Regions from separate parts of the Homo sapiens genome. Here all the other regions are linked to region 1. The links come from fine-mapping of genetic effects on gene expression. A gene starts in region 1. Each other region holds a variant in brackets. All regions are shown on one strand. Distances are between the middles of the regions. Region 1 holds the start of HMCN2 (hemicentin 2). Region 2 overlaps HMCN2 (hemicentin 2). Region 3 overlaps PTGES (prostaglandin E synthase). Region 4 overlaps HMCN2 (hemicentin 2).

The links. PIP is the estimated chance that this variant, and not a neighbour inherited with it, causes the effect.
Region 2: its variant is fine-mapped to the expression of HMCN2 in esophagus muscle (GTEx, PIP above 0.99).
Region 3: its variant is fine-mapped to the expression of HMCN2 in prefrontal cortex (BrainSeq, PIP 0.95).
Region 4: its variant is fine-mapped to the expression of HMCN2 in lung (TOPMed, PIP above 0.99).

What each region holds. Positions count from the first base shown.
Region 1 is chr9:130,261,086-130,269,186 of GRCh38, reverse strand. It overlaps HMCN2 (hemicentin 2), which reads right to left and starts at 3,427. Exons shown (of 98, transcript NM_001291815.2): 1 at 3,050-3,427. The coding sequence starts at 3,308. LOC124902285 (a long non-coding RNA gene) reads left to right here and starts at 2,298. Exons shown (of 2, transcript XR_007061817.1): 1 at 2,298-2,771; 2 at 6,147-8,101. RefSeq lists an enhancer at 1-539.
Region 2 is chr9:130,319,046-130,327,146 of GRCh38, reverse strand. It overlaps HMCN2 (hemicentin 2), which reads right to left. Exons shown (of 98, transcript NM_001291815.2): 16 at 7,452-7,652; 17 at 6,696-6,791; 18 at 6,244-6,371; 19 at 5,216-5,360; 20 at 1,440-1,552; 21 at 1,177-1,336. Among named protein-coding and RNA genes, the nearest start is that of HMCN2, 57 kb to the right of the region's middle. The variant G/A (reference allele first, on the strand shown) is at 3,342.
Region 3 is chr9:129,735,461-129,743,546 of GRCh38, reverse strand. PTGES (prostaglandin E synthase) reads left to right here. Exons shown (of 3, transcript NM_004878.5): 3 at 3,687-5,198. The coding sequence ends at 3,936. Among named protein-coding and RNA genes, the nearest start is that of PTGES, 14 kb to the left of the region's middle. RefSeq lists enhancers at 350-850, 5,856-6,105. The variant C/T (reference allele first, on the strand shown) is at 3,025.
Region 4 is chr9:130,287,608-130,295,708 of GRCh38, reverse strand. HMCN2 (hemicentin 2) reads right to left here. Exons shown (of 98, transcript NM_001291815.2): 5 at 683-854; 6 at 1-43. Among named protein-coding and RNA genes, the nearest start is that of HMCN2, 26 kb to the right of the region's middle. RefSeq lists an enhancer at 5,700-6,268. The variant A/G (reference allele first, on the strand shown) is at 3,209.

The DNA.
Region 1 (8,101 bases):
GTAAAATTTCCGAAGCACGGATCTTAGTTTGTCTCCAAGCAGGAACAGTCTAGAACCGCCACGATTTGCCCCGCACCCGCCTCTTGGGGTTTAGGAGAGGGGCTTACTTTAAGAAAACCCTCCCGCTGTGCAGCTCTGGGAGCTGGAACAAACAGCTACAACCCGTTTCTCAAGTTCCTCTTCCACCAAAGGGGATTCTATTTGCTGATTCAAAAGGCACAGCCAGGCCTAAATCACAGTTCCAAACTGCTGCTCAGAAGCCCTCGGTGGCTGTTCACAGCCCATAGAAGGAAAAGGAAATCCAAGTCCGCCAAGGCATCAATCGGCCCTGCACTCACGGCTGTGTCCAATCTTGCCCTTCCCCACTTTCCCGCTCCACTCCTCCCGTGCACACCCAGCTCCCACACACACCTGTCCCTCCACATCAGCCCTCCTGTCCATCCCCCGGTCCTTACCCAGCCAGCTCCACATGCCCCAGGGAGTCCTCTCTCCCTGCTGTGTTCCCAGCACCTGGCATCTGCCAGGCAAACGGCCAAAACCCAGTAAACATTCACTGATGTTCTTCAGGCCCTACTCACAGGCTGCTTCCTCAGGGGGGGGTCTTTCCTTAGCCCCCTTCCTTGCTTACTGGCCCATGGCCAGGAGTTGGCACCTGAGCCACCACATGTCACTTTCTACTCCCCACCTGGCCTGTCCCAGAGGGCTACCAGCCCCGTGGAATGAACCATGCCCCTTTACACTGTGAGCCTCCCTGGGCTCTACACAGATCAAGGGCTCCATGGTGCTGAAGTCTCCCCGACGTCTGAACCTGGGGGTGTCACTCGGAAGCTAATTTGGGGAACCAGGATGGAGAACTGGATTTTTGTTTCATAGAGGATGGAGTGAGGGGGCTGAGCCTGGTGAAGGCTGGAGAACTGCCCACCAGCTCAGTGCCCAGAGAGGAGAGGGAAGAGCAGGGGTGGGAGGTGGGCTTCCTGAGGCTCATGGCCACAAATGGGGCAGCGAGGACAGTCTCAGGAACCCTGGTCTGGGCTTCAGGACACGACATCTGGCTCTGAAAGGCTGCTATCCTGCTGGGCCACTGGAGCCACATATTTCAGAGACAAATGTGGGTTATGATTCAGGAATGACGCCACCCTGGCAGGTGGCCTTGGGAAAGTCTCATCAGTGTCCTGAGCCTCAGTTTTTCCAACTGTAAGATAAAGGGGTAGATTCAACGATCTCTAAGCTCCTTCAGTGTGATGTCTTCGGAAGCCCCAGAACAATTCAGAAAGTGGGTGAGAGAGCTGGGGAGACGGAGGGTGACCTGTGTTCCAGCTTAAGTGCCAGAACACACTTCACAGCCCACCTCCTCACAACCCCCAGCTTGGTTGCCCCCTGACTCCAAGATAGAAGCTGTCCATCTGATGTTCCTAGAAATCTTTGTCTAGAGCCTTGGCTTCTGAGCTTTGAGCTGCAAAACCCTGTGGTGCCCAGAACTCCTGGAAGCAGAGGGGCCTCCAAGCCCCTAGACCACAAACTCAGCCTGAAGCCTACGTAGAACTATGTCTTCCCACTGTTTTGTCCATTTTCTAAGAACCTGTAATGGTATTGTGATTAATAAATGCAAATCCCTCTGCAAGGACTTGCTGGCTCATACAGCCAATGGCCACCGTCTATTTCTTCAGCACAAGAACACTCTGCAGTACAATTTAGCAAGGAATCTGTGCGTGTGTGTGTGTGTGTGTGTGTGTGTGTGTGTGTGTGTGTGTTTTATTTGGGGGGGTTGTTTGTTTGTTTGTTTGTTGCTTTATAAAGCTATCCTTGACAGAGGGGTGAATGATAGAGAGATGTGATAAAGCAAAATATGACTCAGAGGCTCTCGGTGGGCATAGGCGGTTCCATGTATGTTTCTCCCCATTTTACTGTAAGTTTGAAATTTTCCATTAAAAAACGCTGGGGAGGCTGGGTGCAGTGGCTCATGCTTGTAATTTCAGCACTTTGGGAGGCCTAAGTGGGAGGATCACTGAGGCCAGGAGTTTGAGACTAGCCTGGGCAATACAGAGAGACTCCATGTCTATAAAAAATTTAAAAATCAGCCAGGCATGGTGGCGTATGCTTGTAGTCCCAGCTACTTGGGAGGCTGAAGCAGGAGGGTCACCTGAGCCCAGGAGTTCGAGGCTGCAGCGAGCTGTGATCACGCCACTGCACTCCAGCCTGGGTGACAGAGCCAGACCTTGTCTCAAAAAAAAAAAGAAGTGTGGAAAGCAGTCCTGCTCCTCGCCGCTGGGAACCTGCAGCTCACTCAGCAACCGCTGTCCCTGGGACTCTCTACAGTGGAGCGCCCAGGGACCCTTTCAAGGGCGCCCCTAACACTGAGCTGCAAGGCAGGGGGTTAAAGGGGAAGCAGAGGTGCAGCGTGCAGGGAAGAAGGAGTTAGGGCGGAACTCAGCTGTGAGAACACAGCAGGTGGAGGCCACGGGGCCAGCACACGAGAGGCGCTGCCCTTTCCCCAGGGAAGACAGGCGAGGGGACAAGACCAGCAAGGGTGAGTCCGCTCCCCACTGCAGGGTCCGTGGTGGACCCCATTTCGTCTCAAGGCCTGCCTCTGGGAGCCATTCCGGTCTCCAAGCCTCCGCTGGGAGCGAATTCTAAGAATTGGCCAAAGGAAAAGCCCTGCAAAGGCTCGTAGCGTCCCAAGTCCTCGAGAGGAATGCCTCATTTCAACATCTCAGCAAGTCTGGGAGGCCATCCTCACCATTTCATAGGTGGGGCCGGTAAGGCGCGGGAAGGTGAGGTCACTTGCTGAAGTCTCACAACGGCGCGGGAGAGCAGGGAGAGCAGGTTCCTTGAGCGAGGGAATGTTCCAGGGGGGTGGGAGGGAAGGGACAGCTGCAAGGACTGCCCAGGTGGCCAGGGTACCCGCAGCGCGGATATGCCGAGAAGGCGCGCCCGCCAAGCCGCGGCGCAGCCCACGACGTCCAGGTGCGTTCGGGGCCAACTGAGGGGGTCAGGCAGGTGAGAGCACCTCGAAGGGGGCGCCCGGCGGGCGGGGGTGCGGGGGCGCTACCTGGGTCGTGGAAGGGCACCAGCGCGTAGTTGGCGATGGCCTGGCTGCGGCGGCTCAGACTGCGTTCCAGAATGCGCGAGGCGCCATCGATCACCTGCATCAGTTCGTCCCACATGGAGCCGGTGACGTCGAAGACGAAGGCCAGGGTGGCGTCCCCCGTGGTGGGGGGCATTACCGTCCCGGGCGCCCCGGCCACTGCCACTGCCACTGCCGCAGAGACCGCGGTCAGCAGCCGCAGGAGCGGCGCCCCGGGCATCATGCCGAGCGCGGCTCTGGCTGCGGGTGCTGCGGTGGAGGCGCAGGTCGGAGCTAGCCGGCCGCCCCGGTGCACACGGCGGCTGCAGGCAGTGCCTTGCTCCGTCGGGCCGCGGCCAGTGCGCGAGGGATAGGGGCGCGCGGCGGGTCCGCCTGCTGGGCGCCCGAGGCGGGTCCTAGAGCCCACCCCGTTCAGGGTCACGGCCCGCCTCCTCCCCTCCCCCAATCGTGACTCAAACTTTCCCAGCCCCACTGTTCGCCCGTCCAGATCCGAGGTTAGGGGAGGACGCGGGGCGGAAGGCAGAAAGGAGCTGGGGCCCCGGCCAGGGCAGCGAGGGATGGGGACGCGCAGGATGCAGTGGACACCTGCGCCTCCCGCCGATGGCGCGCCGGGGGCGGGAGAGAGGGAGGGGGAGGCGCAACGGCCCCAGTCTCCCTCCAGCCCCAACTCCCCCCACCCCTGCCTGGCCAAAGCGGACCCTGGCTTCTGCAGCTCCCTCCACCCAGTGCTGCGACAAATCCCCCCACCCCCGCCCCCCAACACACACACAAACTTTGCCATTCGTTTTCCTTCTGCCAGGTGGGCTCTGTGCTTCCCGGTTATTGCAAGCACTACTGCTATTATAATCAACAAGAAGTCTTGTTGTTAACCATGTTCTAAGCATTTTCAGTTATTTGCTTGAAGACTGGCTGCAACCCTAGAATGAAATACTAACCCTAAGCCCATTTTACAGAGGAGCAAACTGAGGCTCAGAGAGGTGAAGGCATTTGCTCCAGGTCACTCAATTATCAAACAATGAAGACAAGATCAGAGGCCAGATCTAGAAAGACTCCAAAGGCCCAGGGCTCTGCTGCCTCCCTTGTGTTAAAAGACATTGTCACACGGTCACCTGGTGACTCCAGAGGATGAGGGCTATCCTCCTGCCCATCCACCTCCCCAGCCCCATGGGCTGCATGTGTGGATGCTGCATCCCACGTGAGGTGCTGCCTGGGACTGGGTTCAGCCTCCTGCTCCGGGCAGATCCAGATGGGCTCAGGCACGGCTGCTTATCTCAGGCTGTGCTCTCGGGACCTGTTTCCAGGCCTCTCTCCCCGCTGGCCTATAAGCCCCTTGAGGGCACGGCTAGGCCTTGGTCTACACTGGATGAGCCCCTAGTTCCCAGCCCATATCCAAGCACATGGTGGGGAGGCACTAATGTTGTCTGAATAAATAAACCGCAGCTTTTGTGGAAATGCCGGGTTTTGAGTCATGTGCGAGAAGGTAGCTAATCCCCTCAATCCCTCCTCCGAGAACACCATGCTCCCAGAGACATGGCTGAGGGCTCTAGGTCTGTGAGTGATGGGGGGCGCTTTCTTGAGCCCCTGTCCCTGCAGAGTCGTCAGCCAGGAAGCCACCCCTCCGCCACGCTCTTCCTTTCCTCTTCGGTCTCAGCTCAGACCCCACCTCTGAGGCTGCTTCTGAACCCTTGCCCTGCAACCCACATTTCTCTGAGCCCTGTCCTGGCTCTGACCACACCGTACAGCCCATGTCATGTCTGGGGCCCTGCCTCTCCCACTCTGGCTGTGAGTTCTATGGCAGAGATCCTGTGCCCGGCACATGCTAGGTGCCCAAGGAAGGTGTGCCACCTGAATGGGGCAGCAGGCATCAGAGAAGCTTGGCAGCTGGGCATTGGCCACAGCGGGAGGTAGCACACATCCGCAGGGACTCTGTTCTAGCCCAGAGCTGGGGTCCGAGGGAAATGGTCTCCCACGGAGCTACCAGTCTCGTGGAATATAGTGCCACCAGGTGCCCAGACCCAGCAAGGGAGTGGAACTTGCAGCCAAGTTCACAGGAAGTTGAGTCACCTGCACTTCTTAATGCTGGCTCTTTAAATCTCCCTGGGCTAAGTCTGTGATAACCCCCAGAGTCTGGGCAGGGCTGGGCCAGCTGTTGGAGAAAGAGGTCCCAGCTGTGGGAAGGCAAAAGCCAACAGGAGCCAGGAACCAGGCAGGACTCATAAATGGTGACATTTCAGGCACAGTGCAGGGAACATTTGGGGACAAAGGTCCTTCGGTCATTCACACCACAAACATTTGCTGAGCCCAAGCTGTGGTCAGGCACTCTGCTAGGCAGCGAGAGCAGCAGCGGGGGGTGGGGGGATGAAGATGCAGAAGACATGCTTCCCACTCTGGGGAGAAGAGACATGTAAACAAATAATTCTAAGTCAATGAGGTAAGTGCTAATAGAGGAATTACCAAGCACTCTGGGAACTCAGAGGAAGGAGTGACTGAGCCTAAGAGGTCAGAGGAGGCCACAGAATGAGCCTGAGAAGTCTTAAGGAACAAGCAGGGAAGGGTATTTGAGGAGCAGGAACAGCATGTGCGAAGGCAGGGAGATCTGAGACACCCACTGACAGGTAGCCCTATGTAACCAGCCAGGGGATGGCAAGCTGAGAACAAAGACTAGATCACAAAGGACCTCTGGTATCTTGCAAATGCACTTGGGGTTTTTCTGAGGACATTGGGGAGCTATTGAAGAATGCAGGCCAGAAAGCCATCTGATTTGATGTGCATTTCAGACAGGTCACAGCAGAGAAGTTTGGAGGGTAGACCTTGTAGATGCCAGGAAGCCACAAATCTACCCATCAAGGATGTAAGGGCAAAGCTGGCCCCAAAGAAAAAAAGCAAGATACCTTTCCCCGAGCTGGTCACCGGGGGCAAAAGGAATCATGGATTTCAGTCCTGAAACAGCCTGGCTACCTGGAGCAAAGCCCTCCCCTCCCGGGAGCTTGGTCTCTTCATTCATAAAATGATTCTGAGACGGAAGGGAGGCTAACAAGATAACCTCTGATGTTTCTTGCAGCCTTACCACTCTGGAACCACCACCCCGGTCCCTCAGAGACAGAGGAAGGATGCGAGGGGAAGTCTAGGCTCATCTTGGCACTGCTTCCCCCAACTGCCAGGGAAGAGAGGCTTGAGCAGGCACCTGTCATCTGTCTGCCATAGCTCCATCAAAGAGTAATGTCTGGCCTGACCCCAATGCCCATCCAGGATGACTGGAGGTGCTGCCCCAAGCACCATCCTCTCCGAGTGCTCGGGGCTTCCCAAGAATGTAACTATGGTCGCATAGCAAAAGTGAGCAAGGCTGCAGTGCAGCAGCCCAGAGAAAACACAACTGAACCTCATCAATCAATTTCCATCCCACCACCTTGACTTGACTGCAGGCTGCCTGGGAACCCCACACTTCTCCTCTCTTTCCAGAAGAAGCGGTCTCAGCGGAGTTGTTTCCTAACGTAGCACATTTGTTGCAGACAGCTACAGAGAGCAAAAATATGCTATGGGCCATCCACTTAAAGGAAACAGGCACGGGTATTGCTCAACCTGCCGAGTTCAGCCCTGGCTCATGAACTCAGTTCCATGCACTGCGTCTGCACTGGGGATCCATGTGCAGAGGGGCCAGATCAAAACCCCGGACTCTGAATACATGGTCAGTGCACGAGAAATGACTTCTCCCTACCAATCGCCCTTCCTTACTCTTTCCTATTCCCTGCTCCCCAAATGCCTTCTAGTCTTGGCCGCATTAAATCTGTGATTCTAGGCTGGGCGTGGTGGCTCACGCCTGCAATCCCAGCACTTTGGGAGGCCGAGATGGGCAGACCAGCTGAGGTCAGGAGTTTGAGACCAACCTGGCCAACATGGTGAAACTCCGTCTCTACTAAAAATACAAAAATTAGCCAGGCATGGTGGCAGGCATCCATAATCCCAGCTTCTTGGGAGGCTGAGGCAGGAGAATTGCTTGAACCTGGAAGACGGAGGTTGCAGTGAGCGAAGATCGCACCACTGTACTCCAGCCTGGGCGACAAAGCGAGACTCTGTCTCAAAAAATAAAAATAAATAAATCTGCAATTCTAACATCCCCCACTCACTTCATCCCACCCCAGCCCTCATCCTCAGGGAATCTTCTCTGTTCCTCTGAGAGAGTAAAAATACTAAGGGTGGAGAGGATTGGCCAGAGCCTCGGGGAAGGCCAGACCCCGTACTGACCCCCTCCTCAGGTGCTCCCTCAGCAACCTCTAACGTCAACATCTCCTCTTCATGGAACAGATGAGACAACTGAGGCTCCGAGAGGTGAAGTCCTGTGTCTGGACTGGGCTGTGTGTTGGCGTGTGCCTTCCCACAAATCCTGTGACCCACCTCACCACTCCATGCTGCCCCAGAAACATGGGGCAATGATTTGTACAGGAATCCCAGCAAGCAGAGCTTCTTCTAGAACTAACCAGGAGCTCGGTGTCTTCCTCAGACACTCATAGTCCTCTCGAGCAATTCCCCAGGCTGGACTCTGACTCAAGCTTCAGACATTAAGCACCTTTGAAAGGCTGGAAAGTCACAGTCTACTCATATGTCACCAGAAGGCCTGGGCAAAAAAAGGAGGTAGAGAAATAACCCCGGGAATGAAGCAGGGGTTCTGCCCTCCCAGGGCCTGAGAATTAAAAACTGTTTCAAATCCTTGTTTCGTTCCTCTAGGAAAAATTAAAGAATTAAGCGAGGGCCTGGAAAACAAGGCTAGCAGGAAGTCGGAGGAACTGACAAACAACTGGGAAGATGAAGCTACCGAGGATGGGCTGCAGGAGCCAAGAAGTTAGAATCTGCAAGCCTGCGCCGAGTGCTCCAGTCAGCCAGCACTAGATGATTTACTGCTGAATCCAGCCCCTCTATGGACCAGCCTCCAAGTCACATGGACCGTAAGGAATGGTTTGAGACCATCCCAAGAAATATTTGGGCAGCTCAAGAGATGCAGAAACTGTTGCCCATCCCCAT
Region 2 (8,101 bases), 58 kb before region 1:
AGATTGGAGGTGGGACTCAGGTCCCAGGGTTTTCACTCAGTCCTCCCCTACCCACCTCCCCACCACCACCTTGCTCTGAGGACCCTGACCCGGTCCCTCCTGCCCTACGGTCTGTGCCTTCTCTGGCTTCTCTTCATCCTGCTGTCCCTTCCCCAGGGACATTCTGAAAGGCTCTGAACTCCTCCTCTCTCTCTACCTTCTCCCCTTGCTCATTCACTTATTCCCATGATATCAGCCACCAAAGAATGCACAGACCCTCCCTCTGGACCTCTCGAAGCCTGGTGAGGGATTGATGGCAATCTGTGCATGTCACGTCTCTCTCACCTTAAGCTGAAGACCCTTCGTCGGCAGAAACAGCATGGTACCCTTCCTTCCTCCCCGCTCCCCGCCTCCGCCTTTCTACCTTGGAGTTCATACAAGGAAGGCACTCGCTACCTGTCTGAGCAGCAACAATGAAAGAAGCTAGCCAGTTGGGGACATCAAAACCCATCTAGCCCTCCCGTGTTCCCCGTACATTTGTAGTTCAAAGGAAATGCTCCCCCATTAGGAATTTTTTTTTTTTTACAATATAAAAATATTGACTGTAAGGGTCTATGAGAGAAAAAGCCTGGCTTATACATTTGCTCACTCCTCCCAGACGTATTTACTGAGCGCCAGCCCTATGGGGAATGCTGCGGACGGCAGCGAAGGAGACAGGTCCCGCCCCATCTTCACAGCCTTTAGGGTCCTTTGGCAATAGTGGTACCAAAAAGCTCACTGTGTGATTAATTATTGAATCATAGCTGTGACGGGTGCCAGGAAGGGGATATTCCACAGTTTACAGCAAGGTGACTTGACCAGCCTGGGGGAACAGGGAGAGCTGAGATCTGACAGATGGGAGCAGTCAGCTGGGCCCAGAGGTGGGGGAACAGCATTCCAAGCAGAAGGAACTACATGTGCACAAGCCCTGAGGCAGGTTGGACCATTCCAGAAACAGAAAGGAGACCAGAGGGTCTGGGGCAGAGAGAGGCGGGGAGAGGGCTGCTGGGGACGCGGGTCCTGTGCAGAGCCACGTGTCTTTGCAGGACTTGCTGATGCAACAGCTTCCCTGCCTCAGGCTCCACAGGGCTGACGTGGGACTCTCTGTCTCCACAGCCACTGAGCCCCCTCTCCCAGGACAGGGTTGGCATCACTCACTGTTGACAGAAAGTCGCATCTCCTGGCTAGAAAAGCCCACGGTGTTGGTGGCCGTGCAGACGTAGGCCCCTGCGTCCTGGGCAGACGGCTGGGCGATGAGCAGGGTGCCCTCCTTACTCACATTGTAGTGGGGACCTCTGGAGGTCAGGGCATTGGTTTCCTAGGGCAGAGGCACAGGTGACATCGGCGAAGCCCACACCTCCGCCCCATGACACACTGGGCCTACCTCTCCAGTTATCCTCTCGGTAACAGGCACTGCTTACCTTGGTCCACGTGATGGTGGGGGCGGGAACTCCTGAAGCGACGCAGGGAAGAGAGGCCGCAACCCCTTCATTGGTGATATGGTGGGTGGCAGTGGGATGGATTCTAGGTGGCACTGTTATAAATAAACCAATGTCAAAGCCAAGGCTCATTGCAGCATCATTCACAGTGGCCAAAAGGTAGAAACAGCCCAAATGTCCATCAGCGATGCATGGGCACACAGCATGCGGTGTGTGCACACAACAGAAGAGTATTCATCCTTAAAAAGGAAGGCAATTAATTCCAGCTATATGACATTCTGGAAAAGGCAAAGCAGTCGGACATGGTGGCTCATGCCTGTAATCCCAGCACTTTGGGAGGCTGAGGCGGGAGAATCACTTGAGGTCAGGAGTTCGAGACCAGCCTGGCCAACTTGGTGAAACTCCGCCTCTACTAAAAATACAAAAATTAGCTGTGCATGGTGGTGCATGCCTTGTAATCCCAGCTACTCGGGAGGCTGAGGCAGGAGAATTGCTTGAACTGGAAGGCGGAGGTTGCAGTGAGCAGAGATTGCACAACTGTACTTCAGCCTGGGAGACATAGTGAGACTCTTGTCTACAAAAAAAAAAAAAAAGAAGAAGAAGAAGAAGAAGAAAAGACAAAACTAGATCAGTGGTTGCCAGGTTGGGGGAGGAAGCGATGAAGAGGCAGAGCCCAGAGGATTTTTAGGGCAGTGAAGCTACTCCAGGTGATATTGCAGTGATGGGTCACTGCATTTGTCCAAACCCACAAAATAAACAACACCAAGGCTGGGTGCAGTGGCTCACACCTGTAATCCCAGCACTTTGGAGGCCAAGGTGGGCGGATCACCAGAGATCAGGAGTTCGAGACCACCTTGGCCAACAGGGTGAAACCCTGTCTCTACTAAAAATACAAAAATTAGACCGGTACAGTGGCGGGCGCCTGCAGTCCCAGCTACCCAGGAGGCTGAGGCAGGAGAATTACTTGAACCCGGGAGGTGGAGGTTGCAGTGAGCTGGGATTGCGCCACTGCACTCCAGCCTGGGCCATAGAGTGAGACTCCATCTCAAAAAAAATAAAAAATTAAAAAACCACTAAGAGGGAACCCATCTAAAATAAAAATAAAAAATAAAACAAATAAACACCACCAAGAGGGAACCCCAATGTAAACTATGGGATTTGGAGTGATGATGACGTGTCTTCAGTGCTAACAACGGGCCGCCCTGGTGGGGGATGTTGACAGTGAAGAAGGCTGCGCGTGGCGGGAGCCAGGGTTATGTGGGAAATCTCTGTACCTTCCGCTGAGTTTTTCTATAAACTTAAACTGCTCTTAAAAGTCCAGTCTGTTTTTTTAAAAGGAATAAAATTCTGACACATGCTACACCATGGATGAACCTTAAAAACATGCTAAGTGAAATCACAGACATAGGAGGACAAATACTGTAAGATTCCACTTCTATGAAGTCCCTAGATACGCAAGTTCATAGAGATAGGAGGCAGAAGGGTGGCTCCCAGGGGGCTGAGGGGAGACGGGAATGGGGAGCTAATGTTTAATGAGGACAGAGTTTCAGTTTAGGATGATGAGAAAGTCCTGGAGATGGATAGCGGTGATAGTGTGAAATGTGAATGTACCAACACCACTGCACACCTAAACATCGTCAAATGATACACGTTATGTTATGTATATTTGACAATTTTAAAAGCTTTCAGGCCAGGCACGGTGGCTCATGCCTGTAATCCCAGCACTTGGGGAGGCTGAGGCAGGTGGATCACCTGAGGTCAGGAGTTTGAGACCAGCCTGGCCAACATGGTGAAACTCGTCTCTACTAAAAATACAAAAATTAGCCGGGCATGGTGGCACATGCCTGTAATCCCAGCTACTCAGGAGGCTGAGGCAGGAGAATC[G/A]CTTGAACCCGGGAAGTGGAGGTGGCAGTGAGCCAAGATCATGCCACTGCACTCCAGCCTGGGCAACAGAGTGACTGCGTCTCAGAAATAAATAAGTAAAATAAAAAAAAAAAAAGCTTTCAATGGGAGAATAAAACTGGAACAATCCCTGAGCCACCACTGCCTGCCATCGTCAGTTTTTTTGTCTTCCCCATACAGAAGGCAGCATGTGCTTGGGAACCAGCTGCGCTGATTCATTGCTCTGGGGCTCTGGATAAGCCACTTAATCTTTTGGTACCCATATTCCCTGATCAGCACAAAAGCTAATTTAACCCCAGTTCCCTGGTCGTCCCTTCTGGAATGGATAGATGAGCAGTGTTTGCAGAACACAGTGAGCTTAAAAACAGGTGTCACACCCACCCTGGGCACCACTCAGATTCGCAGGCTTGAACACGGGGTCTCTAAGGGGAGCGAGAGAGGGGTAACTAGGCATGGAGAAGCCAGGAGAGGAATCCAGAAGCCAGGGGCTCTCACGCTAGCACTTGGAGCTCCTTTAGGGAGGAAAATGGACTTCTGGACTCCCAGGTCGCCACAGCCAGCAGAGGCCCATAAATATTTGCTGAATAGAAATGAACTGAGCCAAGAGAGACTGAGCCTGTTCATGTTAGCCCCACAGAAGCGGCTGTGAGGGCACAGTGGGAAGTTAGGGGGTGAAACTGAGTGGAATCATATATAGAAACTAGCAGATGCCTGGCATGTGGTACACACTCCACCCTGGATGGCGATTTGGATCTGGAATTATGAGGGGATGGCACCTAGAATTGCACCTGAGCGCTCAACCCAGCCCTTCTGAACTTTGCACTCCCCTATAAAATGGGGAACGCGCGTTCTTCCCACTAATCCCTTGGGGGCTTTATGAAACAAACAAGAAAAAAGACGATATTAACATACTTGGTAAATCACAAAATACAACCAAATTTAATTTGAAATGTCTCATCTTACATTAAAAAGCACAGTGGTTCCAGTTGGGTGAATAAAAGAACCCAGTGCTGTGGGCAGGAGAGCAGTTGGGCAAGACACTAAAAATTCCAAAAACGTACAATCTCTGTGATGCAAAACTTAATCCACATTAATGGGTTTATCCTAAGGAAAGAATTGGTCACGTAGGTACGTGGTCACCTACAATGTGTAGGTACGAGGCTGTTCATACCCGGGGTGTGGGGGATGCGGTTGGGCGGGGGGAGTACAGATAATCAGGTAATTAGATAATCAGGGGACATGATCATCCCCTTATTAAACTGATGCCTCTGAATCTTAATTGACAGAAAACAGAACAGCCATAACACCTTGTCATGGAAACACTTAGGTGCCAAGACAATGACAGCATGTGATCCTATTTGGTTTTTAAATAGGTTTGTAAACAGGTAGATAGATTAGATGGATAGATAGATAGATAGACAGATGGATAGATAGATAGATAGATGGATAGATAGATAGATAGATAGATTAGATAGATAGATGATAGATAATTTTTATGTAATTTATAAGAACATACAAAGAATCTGTATGTAAAATGTATAAAGAATATATATTCTATGTATACATAGTGTATATATATACTACACATAGGTGTGTGTGATATACATATAGAGAGTGTGTGTGTATAGAGTATGAAAAGATACATGCCAAAATGCAAAATCTGGTTATTCTTAGCTACTGGTATTATGAGAGTATTTTTTTAACTTGTCAAATCCCTAATTTTCCCACAGAGAATATATATGATTTGCACGATTTTTTAAAGCAAATGCATTCAAGATCAAGTTACCTCTGCACATTCCCCCACCCCATCATGTTCCCTGCCCCACGACCACCACCTCCGAGACCCCAGGACTCACCCTGGACCACCAGCTCCACGTCCCGGTGCTGAGAGCCGGCCGTGTTGGTGGCCACACAGCTGTACCTCCCCGCGTGCTCCTGCAATGCTCGGTCAAGGTGGAGGCTGCCGTCTGCTCGGATGGAATGCCGGCTGCCAGGTGGGAGCTGGTGGGGGTGAGGAAGCACCAGCTTAGCCTTGGGCCTCACTCAGAGGCAGCTGAGAAAGAACCCTCGGGAAACTATGCTGCTCATCAGGCCAGTAGGGAGCAGCCAGGACTGAGAGCCCGGGGGCTCAGAGAAGGCTGAGGAGCTCTGTGAGTCCTTCCCGAGTGCCCAGTCAAGCCCTCCAGAGACCCTGCAGGGCTGGGTGGGCCTGACCCCTACATACCCTGACCCCACCTCTCCCTCGGCCAACTGGACCAGGGTGAGCCTGACCCAAGCTGGGCCCACGAGAGTCTCTCCTGGGAATGCAGAGTTGGGAAGGCACCTCTTTGCAGCCTGCAGGACACAGGGACCTGGTGTGTCTGAGACCAGGCAGAAGAATTGAGGAAAGGGAAGAGGTAATGAAAGAGTCAATAGGAGAGGGCAAACAGAAGAACACCAAGAAAATCAAATGGACGTGAACTGGTTGATAAGGCAACCACTGTGCGTTCAGCGCGCGCCGGTGTCTGGGGCAGATAGGAAACCGCACAGCTCACATCCCTGCTCTGGAATCATAAGAACCGGGGAGACCACTGCATTGAGACTGGGCCTCCACTAAATCCCTGCTCCCTGGCTCACAGCACTCCTGAGGCACACGATTGCCCTGCAGAGCTCCCAGGGGTCCAGCAGCCATGACCCATCTGACAGCCGGCGGGACTTTAGAGGGCAACAAACACCATCAGTGCATTATCAGAGAAGGTTCTGAAATGGGGCCAAAAAGAGGGTGGAAGGAAGAGGACACTCCCAGGCGGGGAAACAGCCAAGCAGAGATAGAGACGTGGCTGTGACAGCCTCCTTCTTCCCCAGGTGCCACCGCCCACCGCACCCAGAGGAGCCCGACACTCACGGGCCGGCCGTCCTTGAGCCAGTGCCTTTCCGGGAGGGGCCGCCCAGCTAGGACGATGCAGGGCAGGGACACGGGCTGCCCCTCCAGGACCCGGACGGTGGGGGCGCTGCTGGCGATCTGTGGCGGGGCTGTGGGGAGAGGAGCCGGTGTCAGCCACAATAGGTGCCCTGGGTGGTTGTCTGGGGGACAGAGGCTCCTGCTCCCCTCTCCCTCCCCAGGGAACTGAGAGATGCATCAGAATTGGGGATCCTAAAGGGTCACAGGACCCCCAGGACATTGTCCAGGACGCAGGGGCACAGGTGCTGCTCTTGGAGAATTTGGCTGTGGATTCGTTTGTTCCAACAGATGGGCCAGGAGAGGCTCCCTGGAGGCGCCCACGGCCTTGCTGTGCCCCCGGGGAGCACCTGCCTCCCACCTCCCACCTCCCACGGCCCTCAGATCCACCAGCGAACCGTGACCAGTGACGATGAGCCGGGCCTCAGCCTGGACCTTCCCAAAGACGTTTCGAGCTTCACAGACATATGGGGCCTGGTCTTCTGGGGCCACACCTGAGGGGCACGAGAGAGGCAGGTGTGACTGCCAAGGCACACCACAGCTGCAGCCCCCATGGGCTCCAGCTCCCCAGGTGCAGAGACAGCCCCTTGGCATGGCCTGGCCTTACAGAGGTTCAGGAGGGAAGGCTGGGATGGTAGAGAGGGAAGGGGTGAGGGACACCGCTGGACCTTGGAAGGTGAGAAAGCCTCAGTTTGCTCATCTGTGGAATGGGGGTAATTGGCCTGTACCTTGTAGTAGTGTGATGGGGCAGGGTTGACAAAGTGCCCGCCCTTGGGCCTGGCGTGTAGTAAAGAGTGGGTGGTAGGGTAGGCGCAGTAGTAATTATGGTAATCATAGTAGCTTATATGTGTGTGACAGCATGTGGCAAGAACTGTGCTAAGCACTTTGTACAGATTATCCACACAACAGCCCCATAAAGTGGCTGCTAATCAGCCAGGTGGGTAGTAGATTTCATGGTCGTGATTATGAACAGGGTCAGAGTAGTGGAATGACTTGGCCAGAGCCACCCAGCCAAAGTGTGACCGCGTATCAGCCTCTGCTCTATGGTCAGTGCTGGCGGTCAGGGTCCTGCTCTCGGCCACCTGGCCTGGGGTTTAGGGTGTCAGAGGCCATCCTGTCTCCCTGCCCACCCCCCACCAGCCCCAATCTCTTACTTTCAAAGAACAGCACTCCCGAATCCGGCTGCCGAGACCTACTGCCTCGCCCGGCCCCCAGCCTGAGTCCCAGAGGCTGGCCATCTCCGCGGCGCCAGGTGACCGTCGGGGGCGGGCGGCCTGTTGCCCGGCATGCCAAGAGGGCACTCCTCCCCAGTTCCACAGTGACATCCCGGGGCAGCTCCGTCAGCTGGGGCGCATCTGCAGGGAGGTGACCAGTCAACCATGCCCGGAGGCTGGACCTGCTCAGCGGCAGGTCCCCAAGGAACTGCCTCCCTCTCCTCCTCCTGTACTATTGCCCTTGTGAACCTAGGGCTCGACTCCTGTCCAGGGCTCCAGGGTCAACCTGTGCTGAGTGGCATCCACCCCTGGAGAGCTCTTGGGATGAGGCAGAGGGAGTGACTCGTGGGATGGTGCGTGGGGTCTCAGGGGCCTGGCTTTACCCCAGAGGTGCAGGGGAGGGAGCAGCATGCCCACTCCTGGCTGTGACACCTCCCAGGAAGCCCCTCCAAGGGGCTCTAAGGAGTGTTTCTCAGTCTGATTGTGACCCGCTGACATAGGAGCTGAGGGTGAGCCTTCATTTCTACCCCTGCCTACCCTCCCCTACCCCTCGCCTCCTCCTGGGCCAGAGAGGCTTTCTCTTGGAGGTG
Region 3 (8,086 bases), 530 kb after region 1:
GTCACCTATGCAGGAAAATGCAGCTGGTGTGGAAAAGTCTGTGGAGGGTGAAGGCAGGCCTGATGCTGCAGGAGGCAATACAAGTCCAGTCTAGTAGGAATTTGCTTTGGGTGGCTTTTACCTTAAAAAAATGGTTATTATTTGAATGATGCATTTCACCCGAGCACGTCTGTGGTACGTGCCTGCCTCCATGTCTCTCGGTTTGGAGCCTGGAGGTGGGAGGAGGGAGGTGAGCTTTCTTCCATCATTCCTTGGTGTCTCCATTGCTCCCTGTCCCTGGCCACTGCGGCCTCGGAGGGGCCCCTCTGCGGTTTGAGACAGACCAGACGAGTGAGGGAGGGCTGGGCCAGCCCCAGGGGCTGACAGTCAGAGCTCCTGACCACCTCTCCTCCCACGCTGGTGACCGCTGAATTGCTGCCCAATGGCTGGAAATAGAAGGTGGGGCTCAGTCCCCGCTTTTTCTGCAAGGCCTGCTCCTCCCCAGCCTGCAGACATGCCAGGCAGAGCAGGATCCACGTCTGCCATGAACTTCCCGTCTTGTTCCTCCTTCCCACCCTGTGTTCCCCAACTTCTTTCCTTCACCCACTCTTCAGGGTTTGGCTATGTTTGTGAACTATCTGTACTATGATTCTCTTAACAGCTTTCCAAACATTGACTTACTCTTTTTTTTTTTTTGAGACGGAGTCTCACTCTGTTGCCCAGGCTGGAGTGCAGTGGCGCGATGTTGGCTCACTGCAACCTCTGTCTCCCGGGTTCAAGAGATTCCCCTGCCTCAGCCTCCCGAGTAGCTGGGACTACAGGCGCCTGCCACCACGCCTGACTGATTTTTGTATTTTTAGTAGAGATGGGGTTTCACCATATCAGCCAGGATGGTCTCGATCTCCTGACCTCGTGATCCGCCCGCCTCAGCCTCCCAAAGGACTTACTCTTAAAATATCAACACATACTTTAAGGAATAGCTGAGTGAACGAGTTGCATATGCTGGTTGTGCTTTTCCTGAAACTTTCAAATAAACATTACAAAACTCCTCATCCAGGTGGCACTCCCTTGTGAATCACTTGTGACAGGCAGACCTCATTTTGGGACATAATCAAAAATGGGTTTTCCAAGGGTGTCCCTCTAATCAGCCTGTAGGGGGATGTGGGTACCCACAGCTCAATTGCCAGAGGACGGAGTGATTTTTGTTTTGTTTTATGTTTTTTTTTTTTTTTTTTTTTTGAGACAGAGTCTCACTCACTCTGTCGCCCAGGCTGGAGTGAAGTGACACGATCTTGGCTCACTGCAACCTCCACCTCCCAGGTTTAAGTGATTCCCTGCCTCAGCCTCCTGAGTAGCTGGGAACTACAAGCACACACCACCATGTACAGCTAATTTTTTTTTTTTGTACTTTTAGTAGAGATGGGATTTTGCCATGTTGGCCAGGTAGGTCTCAAACTCCTGTCCTCAAGTGATCCACCAGCCTCAGCCTCCCAAAATGCTGGGATTACAGGCATGAGCCACTGCACCCGGCCAAGGATGGAGTGATTTTGGAGGAACACCTATTGCCTTTCCTCATCAGTCCTGGTAAGGGACTTACTTGACAGGGAGGTGGCCCCAGTCTTTGGTTTCTCCCTCTCTTTTATTTTATTTATTTATTTTTTTGAGAGGGAGTTTCCCTCTTTTTGCCCAGGCTGGAGTACAATGGCATGATCTCAGCTCACTGCAATCTCCACCTGCCCGGTTCAGGTGATTCTCCTGCCTCAGCCTCCCGAGTAGCTGGGATTACAGGCATGCACCACCATGGCTGGCTAATTTTGTATTTTTAGTAGAGACAGGGTTTCACCATGTTGGCCAGGCTGGTCTCGAACTCCTGACCTCAGGTAATCCGCCCGCCTTGGCCTCCCAAAGTGCTGGGATTACAGGCGTGAGTCTGTAATCTCCCTCTTATGTCTTCCCTGAGGGCAGTACCCCAGGATCTATCCAGAGCCAGCCTCTGACAGACACAGGCAGGCCACAGTGTTCCCCACCGCTGGGTGAGAACTGCCCTGCCACAGACTTGCTTTCCTTGTGTCTGGGTTGCAAGGTCAGGATCTGGGGGAAAAGGAGAAGAGGGGTTCATGTCAGTCTCGGGATATGCGGACCCAGATGCCAGGTGCTGTGTCCTGAGTTTGGCCTGAGAAAGATCTAGGCCCTGCTGGGTTTACAGGAGTTTTGTACACTCAGATTGAATTCCTCTCCCTCTCTTATCTGCCTCACTCCCTCTTGTGCACCGCACTGTAGCCATGGGCTCACCTTTCTGCACATTGAACATGCTGTGCTTATTGTGACCTCAGGACCTTTGCACACACTGGTCTTCCTTCCTGGAATGCTTTTCCCCTGCAGGGCCAGCTTCTCATCATTCAGGCTTCTGCACATATGTCTCCTTCCCTGCCCACCCCCACCCCAGGCACGCTGCAGAGCTTCCTACAGTGTGGGGTGGCCAAGCACTCCAGGCCCCCTCTTTCCTTTTGGTCAGGCCCACACACCATCGCACTGGCCCAAGAATCGTCTTGCCAGTGAGAGGGAAGAGGAGGACCCTGCAGCGGGTCCCCACTCAGTGCTGCTAGTCTGGGCCTGGCCCGAGGAGACGGTGTTATTGGTGGAATGTATGTCAGCAGGAAGGCCCGGAGAACATGCTTCTGTTCCTGCACCTCACACGCGTGGCCTGTCCTTGGGGGAGGTCATGCCCTGGGCACTGAATTCCTGTTTATTTGAGCTTCCAATGTGGCAATCTATGGGTTTAGTTGCTCATTCAGTCTCTAATTTATGGGACTCAACCTCCCCACCCTTCATAAAGGAAGCCGGCCATTAGTAGGAGTCTGGAAAATGTGAACCAGCAGAAGTAGGTGAGTTTTCTGAGTTTTCTTTCTTGGTCATTTATTTATGGTGGGGTTATACAGAGCCCCTCCGCCCCCACCACACATATGCACATGCTTGATTCCTTTCAACAGAAAAAGAGGCAGGAAAGGATGTGTAAAATGAAGAGCTTCACCGGGGGCTGGCCAT[C/T]GGTTGGCTCCAGTGAGTGGGAGCGGATCTTGTTATGATTGTCCCTGAAAGGACAGGTGGTAGTTAGATTTAGGGGGAAAAGGAGACAGAGCCCGGCATTCATTTCAAAGGCCTGCTCTTGGGCTCTAGCCCCTTCTACTCGGGAGGGGCCCAGGAAGCTGCATTCAGAAGGAGGATGACCTCAGGCCTGACTCAGAGAAGCCCTGCCCTGGAGGTAAAGAGCACAAACTCCAGTCAGAACTCGGTTCCAATCCCAGCTCCTCCACTCGTTGGCTCTGTAAAGCACTCAGCACCTCTGAGTCCCACTTTTCCTGCCTGGTATCCAAGGGCTAGAGAGGAAGGTGGGGGAGAGTATGGCAGGAGTGGGGTCCCGGCAAGCCATAGAGGTATGGTAAGAGCATCCTGGACCAGTAGCCCTCTGACTCCCAGCCCATGACGTGGCCTCGCTGCCTCAGCTGCTTGCAAGCATAAGCTTGGAGCTGCCTTCTTCTGGACTCTGGGGTATCCATCTCCTTGACCTGGCTGTGAATGGATTTGAGTGTGTGATATGCCTGAAATGACCCCCAGTGGGTCAAAGCACCCCCAGCTTCCATGACACTCTCAAAAGGGCCTATGGCCCCAAAGCTAATACCTGGCTGACCGCACCCCTCTTGTCTCCCCAGGGCCCACCGGAACGACATGGAGACCATCTACCCCTTCCTTTTCCTGGGCTTCGTCTACTCCTTTCTGGGTCCTAACCCTTTTGTCGCCTGGATGCACTTCCTGGTCTTCCTCGTGGGCCGTGTGGCACACACCGTGGCCTACCTGGGGAAGCTGCGGGCACCCATCCGCTCCGTGACCTACACCCTGGCCCAGCTCCCCTGCGCCTCCATGGCTCTGCAGATCCTCTGGGAAGCGGCCCGCCACCTGTGACCAGCAGCTGATGCCTCCTTGGCCACCAGACCATGGGCCAAGAGCCGCCGTGGCTATACCTGGGGACTTGATGTTCCTTCCAGATTGTGGTGGGCCCTGAGTCCTGGTTTCCTGGCAGCCTGCTGCGCGTGTGGGTCTCTGGGCACAGTGGGCCTGTGTGTGTGCCCGTGTGTGTGTATGTGTGTGTGTATGTTTCTTAGCCCCTTGGATTCCTGCACGAAGTGGCTGATGGGAACCATTTCAAGACAGATTGTGAAGATTGATAGAAAATCCTTCAGCTAAAGTAACAGAGCATCAAAAACATCACTCCCTCTCCCTCCCTAACAGTGAAAAGAGAGAAGGGAGACTCTATTTAAGATTCCCAAACCTAATGATCATCTGAATCCCGGGCTAAGAATGCAGACTTTTCAGACTGACCCCAGAAATTCTGGCCCAGCCAATCTAGAGGCAAGCCTGGCCATCTGTATTTTTTTTTTTCCAAGACAGAGTCTTGCTCTGTTGCCCAAGCTGGAGTGAAGTGGTACAATCTGGCTCACTGCAGCCTCCGCCTCCCGGGTTCAAGCGATTCTCCCGCCTCAGCCTCCTGAGTAGCTGGGATTACAGGCGCGTATCACCATACCCAGCTAATTTTTGTATTTTTAGTAGAGACGGGTTCACCATGTTGCCCAGGAGGGTCTCGAACTCCTGGCCTCAAGTGATCCACCGGCCTCGGCCTCCCAAAGTGCTGGGATGACAGGCATGAATCACTGTGCTCAGCCACCATCTGGAGTTTTAAAAGGCTCCCATGTGAGTCCCTGTGATGGCCAGGCCAGGGGACCCCTGCCAGTTCTCTGTGGAAGCAAGGCTGGGGTCTTGGGTTCCTGTATGGTGGAAGCTGGGTGAGCCAAGGACAGGGCTGGCTCCTCTGCCCCCGCTGACGCTTCCCTTGCCGTTGGCTTTGGATGTCTTTGCTGCAGTCTTCTCTCTGGCTCAGGTGTGGGTGGGAGGGGCCCACAGGAAGCTCAGCCTTCTCCTCCCAAGGTTTGAGTCCCTCCAAAGGGCAGTGGGTGGAGGACCGGGAGCTTTGGGTGACCAGCCACTCAAAGGAACTTTCTGGTCCCTTCAGTATCTTCAAGGTTTGGAAACTGCAAATGTCCCCTTGATGGGGAATCCGTGTGTGTGTGTGTGTGTGTGTGTGTGTGTGTGTGTGTGTGTGTGTGTTTTCTCCTAGACCCGTGACCTGAGATGTGTGATTTTTAGTCATTAAATGGAAGTGTCTGCCAGCTGGGCCCAGCACCTCGTCTTGGGTTGCGCGTTCCTGGTGTTCCCTGCTGCCCAAGCTGGCCTGATGCTCCAGCGCGCTGGGCGTTCTTGCCGGTGACTGTCTACAGCCAGTTTGGCGGGACAAGATCTCTGGCGCAGACACCAACGCGCCCTGGCTGGGTGTTAATCACACAGCAAGCAGCAGCCTCCTGCCTCCCGTTGGGGCGGGTAAGGTGGCATCTGGCGAGGTGAGCCAGGAGCACCCAAATCCTGCCCCGGCCAGGTCACCCCTCCCTGCGGGGCTGCCCCGCCCGCGGGCTGCCATTATCAGCTCCGTCAACCAGGACACGGAGACTCCAGGAGGCCAGCGCCCGGAAGTGCGGGGCCAGGTCTGAAAGTCGGGGCTGCCAAAGTCCCTGGGCGGAGCCCCTGTGCTGCACGGCCTCACTTTCCCTGAACGCCCCCTCCCAGCACCCCGAGGCCGGAGCCCCTCTAACGGATGGGACCTGCCGTGCCGGGGGTTCTCCAGCAGCGCAGGGACCCCAGGCCCCGCCAGAAAGCGCCGTGAGGCCCCGGGTCCCGTTCGGAGCTGAGAGGGGAAACACTGCCCCCTGGTGGTAAGGGGACGCCTCTGTTTTTGGGCCGCGGCGGCTCTCGGGAGAGAAACGGGAAGGGCGCGATCCAGTATTGAGCACCTACTGCTTGCTAAGCGTTGGGCTGGGCATACTAGTTGGATTTTTTTCCAACTTATGTCTGTAATTCAAGCACTTTGGGAGGCCGAAGTTGGAAGATCTGAGCCCAGGGGTTTGAGACTAGCCTGGGCAACAGAGCTAGATCCCTTTTCTACCAAAAAAAAAAAAAAGAATTAGCCGGGTGTAATGGTGCCTGCCTATGGTCCCAGCTACTCGGGAGGCTGAGGCAGGAGGATCGCTTGAGCCTGGGAAGTTGAGGCTGCAGTGAGCCGAGATCCCACCACTGCACTCCAGCCCGGGCAACAGAGGGAAAATGTCTCAAAAAAAAAAAAAAAAAATCCCCAAAACAATCCGAGGCAGGAGGGATTTCCGCTTTCTAGATGAGGAAGGTGAGGGTTTTTAGATGAGAGAGGCAAGGTTCACAGGAAGGAGGCTTGTAGGGGGTGTCTCCTCACAGGGGAGAGGTGACTTGCCTGCTGTCCCTGGGCTCGGACAGTGTAAGGCCAGAGGGAGGACAGATCCCAGGGCAGGGGCCATCCAGGAGGCGAACCCAGCGTGCATTCTTGTTGTTGTTGTTGTTGTTGTTTGAGATGGAGTCTCACTCTGTCACCCAGGCTGGAGTGCAGTGGTGCCATCTCGGCTCACTGCAACCTCTCCTTCCCAGGTTCAAACCATTCTCCTGTCTCCGCCTCCCGAGTAGCTGGGATTACATACAGGCATGTGCCACCACACCCGGCTAATTTTTATATTTTTAGTAGAGACAGGGTTTCACCATGTTGGCCAGGCTGGTCTCGAACTCCTGACCTCAAGTGATCTGCCTGCCTCAGCCTCCCAAAGTGCTGGGATTACAGGAGTGAGCCACCGTGCCTGGCCACAGCAGCGTGCGCTTTTATATTTATATTTTCCTTCCTGGGGAAAGAGGGGCTCTGTGGGCAAAATAACCTGCTGGGAACCCACCGGACCCAGGTGAGCAGGGGCATCGGATGCCCATGGCAATACTGTGAACCTGGGGCGTGGGTGAAGGAGGCGGCCCCCACCACACTGGAGCCGCAGAGACCACGAGACCATGAGGTCCCCTGCCCGGCACCGCCCCTGTTCTGTCGGCTTGTGAGTGCCTCCTCAGGGTGGGGTGGTGCCCGATGCTGGGGTGGCAACCTCATCCTGCCCCCCGTCCCCATGCATGCAGCTCCAGCCTGGGGTGGGCGGGCTCCGCAGGACGGCGCCCGTGATGACCCCAAGGCTCAGCGCCCTGATGGAGGCAGATGGGGCCTTTTAACCCCTGCTGGGGAGCGGCTGCCTGGGGAGGGGGCAACTCACCTGCGGTGGGGGGTGAAAGAGCGGTTTTAAGGGGACCATCCAAGCCAAGAAAGCAAGGAGCAAAGAGAAGAGCTCAGCAGCTCTCCCCAGACCCCTCCACCTTGAGCTTGGGAAGTGGAGGGCGGTGGGGAAAGTTGGGGAGGAAAAGTGTGAGGGTTGATGGTGTGGAGGGGAGATGTACGGAGGGGCGTGGGGGTAGGGGGAGGGAGTGGGGATGGGGGAGGGATGGGGTATGAAAGGGAGGCGTGGGGGGTGTGGAGAAGGGGTGGATATGGAAGGGAGGGGTAGGGGTGGGGTGGGTGTTGGGGATGAGTGTGGGGGAGGGGTGGGTATGGAAAGGAGGGGCAGGGGTCGGGGTGGTTGTGGGGGAAGATTGGGACATGGAAGGGAGGGGTGGGGTGGGGTGGGTGTTGGGGATGTGTGTGGGGGAGGATTGGGGTATGGAAGGAAGACAGGGTGGGGTGGGGTGGGTGAGGGTGTTGTGGGAGTGGTGCGTATGGAAGGGAGGCTTGGGTTGGGCTGGGTTGGGGGTGGGTGTCGGGGAGTGGTGGGTATGGAAGGGAGGTGGGGGTGGGAGACAGATGGGCATAGAAATGAGGTGTAAGTGTGGGAGGGGCTAAAGGGATCAGCAGTGTGGGGTCACGAGCCTCTGGCCCTTATCAGGGAGTCTGGGGCTGTGGGTCACGCCGGGATGGGCTTGGCATGGCTGGCTTTGTTTCCTAAGAGGACCTCTGGCTCTGCCGTGGGAGGGCAGGGGGTGTGGACAGCCAGGCAGTGGACACAGTGGGCAGTGGCATGGCTCTTGCTTCCCCAGTGGCTTGGACAGTCCCCTGGCTACTCGCCCAGGAGCTGGAGGACCCAGGTGCGGGGGAGAGAAGAGAGGGGCAGTACCCAGGATG
Region 4 (8,101 bases), 27 kb before region 1:
TTGAGAAGCACGTTGAGGCCCTCGTCCTCCTGCAGGATCCTCCCTGTGGAAGCCCCAAGGGCTGCTCAGTCCCTAACCCTTTGCTGGGGGTGGCAGGAGCCCCGCATGTCTCCAGGAATCCACAGTACACCAAACACTAGCCTCAGTCTTCCCGGAAGTGACAAGGGGTCTTGGTGGTCCTCGGCCACTGCCTCACTCCACGCTCCACCCTCAGGGATCCCCAGGGGCAGACTGTGTGCCCGGCCTCTAGACCTGGGTGCTCATGACATCCTCAGAACACCATGGGGTCAGGTGACCATGTCTGAATCACACTTCCCCTGACTCTGTTGACCTTGATGAGCACTCAGCACCTGGAACCCCAGCTTCCCATCTGTACAATATGCTACAAGTTCTCACCACCATGAGAATCCACTGGGGTACCACGGAAAAGACTTGGGGAGAGTCTCACGATGCAGGGACCGCCATTACTTTAATTCCCATCGCCGGTTGCTATGGCCCTCCTGCTTCCTCGCACACCATGGGCGCCCTCTCTCCACTTCGTGTCCCCCCCACCCCATATTTCCCTATTCCTGGAGCCTCATGTCTGAAGCCCTGTCACCCTTGGTCTCTTTCTTTGTCCCATCCTGGGCTTCCACCTCAGTCTTGGGGCCAAAGAGGAGGCCAGCCCCGGGGTGGTCCATACCCAGCGGATCTTGGACTTCAATCTCAGGCCCTGGCCCACTCAATGAGATGGTGACCTCCTTCAGGCTGGGGTCAAAGGGGAGTCTCCATGTGTGCTCCCCCTCCTCCTCGTGGTCTGTGGACAGCAGGTGCACCTTGGAGGCCTGGATCGCTGACTCCACCCACTTCAGCACCTGGAGGCAAGTATGAGGAGCTGATGCCGGCAGGTGCCCACAATGTCTTCCCCCTCCCATGGATTTTAGGCAGCATACAAACTTTCCAGGTCGCCCAAGGCCACCCCACTCCTCCATGTCCAACACCAGGCCCAATTCACACATTGTGACCCTCCTGGCTTCCATAGGCTCCAAGCTGTGAAGCCTGAATTGAGGCATTCGGAGGACTCAGCACAGAGGGAAGGAGCAAGGGTGTGTCCCTCTACTGGGAAGACTCTTCCACACTTCTCCACCTGGCCTCCTTCCACAGCACCCACACTTCCTCCAGGAAGCCCTCTTGGTGCCTCTTACACACAATGAACCCTGGAGATCTGGAAACTCCCCCAGACCCATGTAGTTCATGACTGATTATCCCAGGGGCCTCCAACTGTGCTCCCACCAGGGCGCCACGTTCCCTAAGCAGGACTGAGAGGCACTGCTGCAAAGACTTCAGGTCTCTTTCCAGTCCACAGAAGTAAGGAATTGCTGGATGGATTTTTGCAATATTGAGAAGACCTAAATCCTTGGTTTCTATAATTGATTATTCATTCTAAAGTCTTACATCTTTTGGACAAGTGCCACTGAGAATCAGATAAAAGGTAAGGACCCTTTGCCTGGGATATCATCCTATCCCTTAGGTACACATTTAGGGTATGACTTCGGGAGGTTCCCAAACTCCCTCAGAGATACTCCCCCTACCACAAACTGAGCACAAACTTATTTAGTTTCTCCAAATCCTGACCATGGCCTTCAAGACCCTAGGTTCTATGGTCCTAGGCACCTATGCCAACCCAAGGTCACTGTGCCACTGCCTCCCCCTGCCTGCTACACTGGACCCCACCCCTCCCGCAGGCAGCCCCCACCCATACATGCCGTGTTCTTTGCAGGAATGCCCTGCCTCCTCATCGACCATCTCCTTGCTATACTTCAGCTCGCTGCTTGAAGAGCCCTCTCTAATCCTGAAAAGGCTCTGTTCCCTGATACATACTATTTTGCAGCAATCTGCACTCCAGTCATTCACATTTATTGGATTCGGGCTTCTCATCCTTACTGGCCTGGGATCTCTGTGGGGGCAGAGAACCTCTGCTGTGCCCATGTGTGTCTCAGCCCTGAGCTCACTGCCAGGCACAGAGTGAGTGCTCAGGAGGCACCTGCTGGCTGTGTGAGTTCAGTAGGACATGCATCTCCTGGGCAGAGCTATCAGGCTGACCTCAAGTCCACCTCTCAGGCACCTCACTCCATACCCCTCCTCTCCCCAGCTCACACCTCCTCCTTTGCAATAGCCAAGTCACCTAGATTCCAGCAAGGAAACCAAGACAGAGGGAGAGGAAGGGAGCCCCTTCAAGTCTGGACCTTCTCTTTCCAGGCCAAGTTATCTCAAAGAGCGTCCATCCTGTGCAAACCCTAAAACTGAAAGACAGTGAGCTCAACCATAAAATCGGTACCACAACCACAGAGAGAAAAGAACATCTCCAAGTGAATTCCAAACCCGGCGGTTCAACTATCCTTTCTCAGTAGGAGGACAACAAGAACCGCAAAAAAAAAAAAAAAAAAAAACTTTAGTGAGTAGATTTTATTTGGAAGAACTATCAGCACTGTGATTTTGAACCCATTTTATATATCTTGTTGGATAAAGCAAATAAGTAAAGATGTCAATATTTTCAGAATCAAGATTTTTTTCTTATAAACAAATGTAAGAGACAGCTGCAAGTATCAAATCAAATGAGCTAAGTAAAAGATCTACAATGTGAAATTTGAATTGGAAATATCAGTATAAGTTCTCCAGATAGAGATAGATGATAAATTGATAGGTAGGTATATAGGCAGGTAGGTAGGTAGATAGATAGATAGATAGATAGATAGATAGATAGATAGATAGAGCAATTGATCCAGAAGCAATGATGGCCCAAAGTTTCAATAACAATGATCACCACCAGTACCTAGATCTTGGTTTCTAAATACCATTCCCCACGAGGGTTCCTTGGAGAAGTGGCTAATTCCAGGTCTGGGGCAGGCAATTTATAAGGTGAGCCTGGGATGATGGGTTATTCCATAAAACAAAGAAGTTCTCAAAGACAAATAGGGACATATCAAAAGGACATAGGAACCAGCTTGAAGGAGCTCCCACTGACTAAATTTGGGACAACTTGAGCCCAAAAGAGAATAATAACTGTGCTCAATTGAAACACATTGAATAATATAATCCATGTGCACATAATGATACTCAAAAAAGAGAAAGCAAAATTCAAAACAGTAAAGCCTCCCTTGCCACAACTGAAGTGACTCCTTAATCGAAGAGAAAGAACTAAGTGTGATTCCGTGCCTTTTCGACAGAA[A/G]TTGTACTTCAGAGAAACCAAATTATCCGTCACTTTTGATGCATAAAAGTTCTTCTTCTTGGAAGAATGCCCACTCATAAATGTGGGAGGAATGATGCAGTTAGGAAATCATCATTTTGCAACCCCTAATGAAATATCATTTCAGGCAAGAGTCCTCAGTGGATGCTAAAACTGTTAGATGAAAAGTTGATGGGAACTAGATGTCCGCACAGAGCGAGAACATTACCCACTTGAGTCATAAAGGCAAAAACGCAGCCCAACCATACAGAGAGCTGGCTGTCGCCACCCTCACCCAGTCATCAAACTTATCATCAGTAATAGTAGGATGCTCAGACACTATTTGCCTCCCGGTGTGATACAACAGAAGACACACTCAGCACCAACTAGGAAATATTCCTGCCAAAAAGTTCAGCCTTCATCAAATCAGACCTTTGGACTTATCCAGTTTGAGGGAAACATAGGGGATTAAAAAAAAAAAAAAAGTGAATGCCACCACAAGGAAATAATCAGAAGAATCCAGAACATGGGACAGGGTACAAATCCATGCCTCTTGAACAGCTTAGTGTCATAAAAAAAGAGCTGATGGCTTCAGACCAAAGAGGACTTAATAGACATAACAACCAAAGGAAATGCACAGCCCTTGATGAAATCCTGATTTGACGAAAACTGTGATCAAAGACAGTTTGAAGACAGGGAAATCTGAACATGGGCTATGTATAGAATGATACTAGGAAACTCATTAATTTTATTAGACGATATTGTGGGTTATGTTGAAGACTATGTTTTTTCAGAAATCCATGCTGAATTATTTATAGATAAGGTGTCATGATTCAGCAAAAAGTATAAAGAGATAGATAAAGCAAGTCGAGCAGAAATGTTAACAATTGTTGAATCTAGTTGGTAGGTGTGTTCTTTTTACTTTTCTGCATCTTGGAAATTCTTCATAGTAATTTTTTATTAAAGTAAAGTCATTTAAAAATAACAAGTATGCGACCGGGCACTGTGGCTCATGCCTATAATCCCAGCACTTTGGGAGGCCGAGGCAGGCGGATCACCTTAGGTCAGAAGTTTGAGACTAGCCTGGCCAACACAGTGAAACTCCATCTCTACTAAAAATACAAAAATTAGCCGGGTGTGGTGGCAGGCGCCCGTAATCCCAGCTACTCAGGAGGCTGAGGCAGGGGAATTGCTTGAACCCAGGAGGCAGAGTTTGCAGTGAGCTGAGATCATGCCACTGCATTCCAGCTTGGGTGACAAGAGCAAAACTCCATCACAAACAAACAAACAAACAAAAATCAAGTATGCAAGTATGCTGTGACTTTAATGTACACCTGAACAATCACAGTGGTATACTGTTGCTTGCCAACTCCAAGCTAAGGGAAACGCTTCCTGGAAAGCTGAAGAAGAAAGGCAAAGCCACATTCAGCCCCAAGTAGAAAAAGGTCTGTGATTGATTAGCAATGTCTGCCATGAATATGGGTTTTAAAAGTGGTGTCTTGCATGCTACTTATTGGTCATTCTTGCTCTAAATCATAGTCCTTCAGCTCTGCTTACCATGTGATCTTCTACAAAAAGGGAAAGGAATCCAAAGAATTGGAAAATGAGGTTTTTGGGTTTTTGTTTTTTTTTTTTTTTTTTCAGACTGAGCTAGAAGATATGTGCCTAGAAGTTTATGGCTAGATTTCAACTATCACGTGACAAGAATTCTGTATTCTGAAAATGCATCTGTTTTTATAATTGGAGCTACTTCATTGTTGTGTCTTGCCTAGCTTTCTAAGTAATGTGTCTCTTGAAAAGGTCCCACCTGTCTTAGCCAAGGAATGAGGACAAGGTTCTTCGTCCATGTGGGGGTGGACAGAAGGGAGCAGTGGCTGAGGACTCCCAGCTGGAGAGGCCCACAGAAGCCCGCCGAACATGTGAGGCAACTCCTCCAACAGCAAAGAAGCAGGTCCGTTACCACCGTCCCCTTCCCCCGGGCCAGGCCTTGTCAGGGGTCAGGAGGGAAGCATCACTGAGCAAAGCACCAGTCGACAATTACCCAGAGGAGTGACACCCGCTACTGTGTCGTAACTGCTGTTACAAGCTTGTTCTAGGATGTTCTGATGGAGGGAAGATGCTCGGCAATTCAGACTACTGAACCACAGAGAGGGCTGGGACACGAGGCAGAAAGCCAGTGACCCACAGGATGGCCTGCCCTGTAAGCATATCCCCACTTGGGAGTTGGGGGGCTGACCCTCTTGCCCACAGCAGGGCCAGACCCCCCTGTAGGGCCAGGCCTGGGGACATTGCCTTCTAGACCTGTGGTGCCAGGGCTCCAGCGCAGAGAGCCTTCATTAAGCCAGCTCAATGTTCATCTGGTGAAGGCAATGGCTTCCAGATGTTAGAGGGGCTGGGGGACCAGCGAGCCTGCGATGCACTGGGGCTCATCTCTGTCACCCATGGGGAAGGAACGAAAAATCTGGCAGTGCTCCCCCAGCCAGATGGCTGCTGCTCGACCCTTCGCAGCAGATAAATCATCCCCGAGGATCCTCCCAGAACATTTGACAGCCAGGGCGGCTGAGGAAGCAGGGAAGGAAAGCCAGGGGGCGAATGGGCCCCCGAGGCACAGATGAGAACACAGAGGATGGGGCTGTGGGTCCTGGGCCCTGTGCCAGGAGGCTTACCGTGAAGTGACAGAGAGAGAACCCTAGTCAGGGGGTTTTGCCCCTTGCCAGCTGGGCACCCTGGGCACTCGCCCTAGCAGAGAATCTTTTTCAGAGAGAGTTCCTAGTCTTCAGGGGGCATTGATGGAACTGAGGGACATATCCTGGGCTCCACATTGAAGCACGGGGGGGTGGGATGGCATTTAGCCATCGTGAACTCTTACCAAGGGCTTCCTCTCTCCCTGGCTACCATCTCACCAGGTAGGGGCTCTCGTTAACCCAACTGCACACAAGAAGAAAGTGTGGCCCAGAGAGGTTGAGGACTGTGCTGGCAGTCACCCTGCAGGTAAGTGGCAGGGCTGCGAGGTCTGAAGCCAGGCCTCTTGCCCCGGAGTCCAAACCCTAACCACCTCCCCCTGGGAGGGGTCCAGGATGAGGTCATCTCTGGGCCCCTGCTGATGAATTTAATCAGAGCCACCTGGTCAGACGCTCCCCCAGCAGCTCCCCCTCACCCCCCCATCTTCCGCCCGCCCTTACTGTCTTAGAAGGACACCTTTCTCCTAGCAGATGCACAGAACACAGGCAATTCACCCTTTGTGCCTGCTGGTGCTGAACATGGGAAGGCTCCCAGCCCCCAGAACCAGCCGTGCTGGAACGTGTGAGTTGTGGGGTGGGGGATGCAGAGGAGAGCAAGATGCCCAGTGCTCTCCCAGGAAAAAAAGACAGAGGGGCTTTCCCAGGCACGGGGGAGCTGCAGGACAGGCAAGTTTGCCCAGCTCTGCTGGCCCCACCCCCACCACTGTCGGGGCTAGTGACAGTGCGTTGAGCTGTGTCTGCCAGGGAACTTGGGGGAGGCTGCTCTGGCACAGCAGGTGCTTGGACTTGTCTAAGTCTTAATCAAAAATGCACACCTTTGGGGCAGGTTCAAGGGGCCACGTTGCCTGCCTCTGACATGATCCCCTGTCTGTTTAAGGATTATAAAAGCTCCAAATTTCCCCTACCAGGGAGAGATCCTCACCTTCCTTTAATTACCCTGCAACCCCAAGGGGTGATCCAGGTACTAGTGAGGCCAACTTCACAATTGAAAAAAAGTGAAATGCTCCAAAGCAGTAAGCCCTAGCTGTGACTGATGGCCAACTCTGCACCAGCACTCAGAGCTGCACCTGGCCCGGGGCAGGAGCTCAGCAAACAAGGGGAAGAGAATGCATGACGCCTCTTGGGCTGCACTGGATGCACTCTGAAGAGGTAAAAGGATTAATGACACACGCATAGTTTGGAGCCTTTTGCAACTTCTGGGGAGTTCTCCCAGCTGGAGGCCCCTTGGCTAGGGTGAAGGCACCGTTCATCTCTCCTGGGAGGGTGACCGCAGCCCTGGCTGTCCAGCCACCTTCCCAGGCTTGCCGAATGTCTGGGAACATCTGGAAGAGGCTATGTCCAAGGCATTAAGCTAAAGAACAACAGAGCTCCATGCCCAGGAAGGAGAGGGTTCCAGGCCCCTACTTAGAGGTAGCCAATTCTGGCCACTGGTGGTCCTACTGAGTCAGACACATGCTGCCCGGCCAGACTGTCACAGCAGAAAGCTGGCACCACAGCTGGGAGTAGTGGATTTGCCCAGGTTCCCAGCCTCAAGGAAGAGGCTTAGGACAGCCCAGCCTCACACCTGGGCGAGTGGCCCCCATCAACCTGCCCAGCTGCCCTGTGTCTGATTTGCCCCTGGCAGGAACCAAGTTCCCATGCAATTGGCCAGATAGTTCTCCCCAGGAGCAAGAACCAACCCATCCTTCCACTGTAAAATGCCTCCCACCCTTGCTTGGGTGACTCGGTGCGAGGGTAGGCTGACATGCCAAAAAATGAAGCCTAAAGTGTCGCAGAGAACCATAAACGCCATCTGTCAACAGGGAGTTAAGGCACGCTAATCTAAACACACTCCTGGAGATAGCTCTCTGCAGCTCGTAAATATACACACACAAAACCCTCTCCCAGAGGCAACAAAGCAGGACTGGCTCAAGGCCATGGCCAGCCTCAGACACCCTGCCTCTCTCTCCTTCCTCTTACCAGGGACTTGAGCACAAGGGACCCTGTCCATTCACCAGCTATTTACCCAGCACCTGCTCTGAGCTGGGAAATGTAAAGTGCTGGGAAGGCTGTGGCCATCGGGACTCACAGCCCAGTCCCTGGAAACTTCACGGCCTAGTGACATTTAATAATCGCACAGTTATAAAGTTATGATTATGCAAAGTAGCACAGGGAG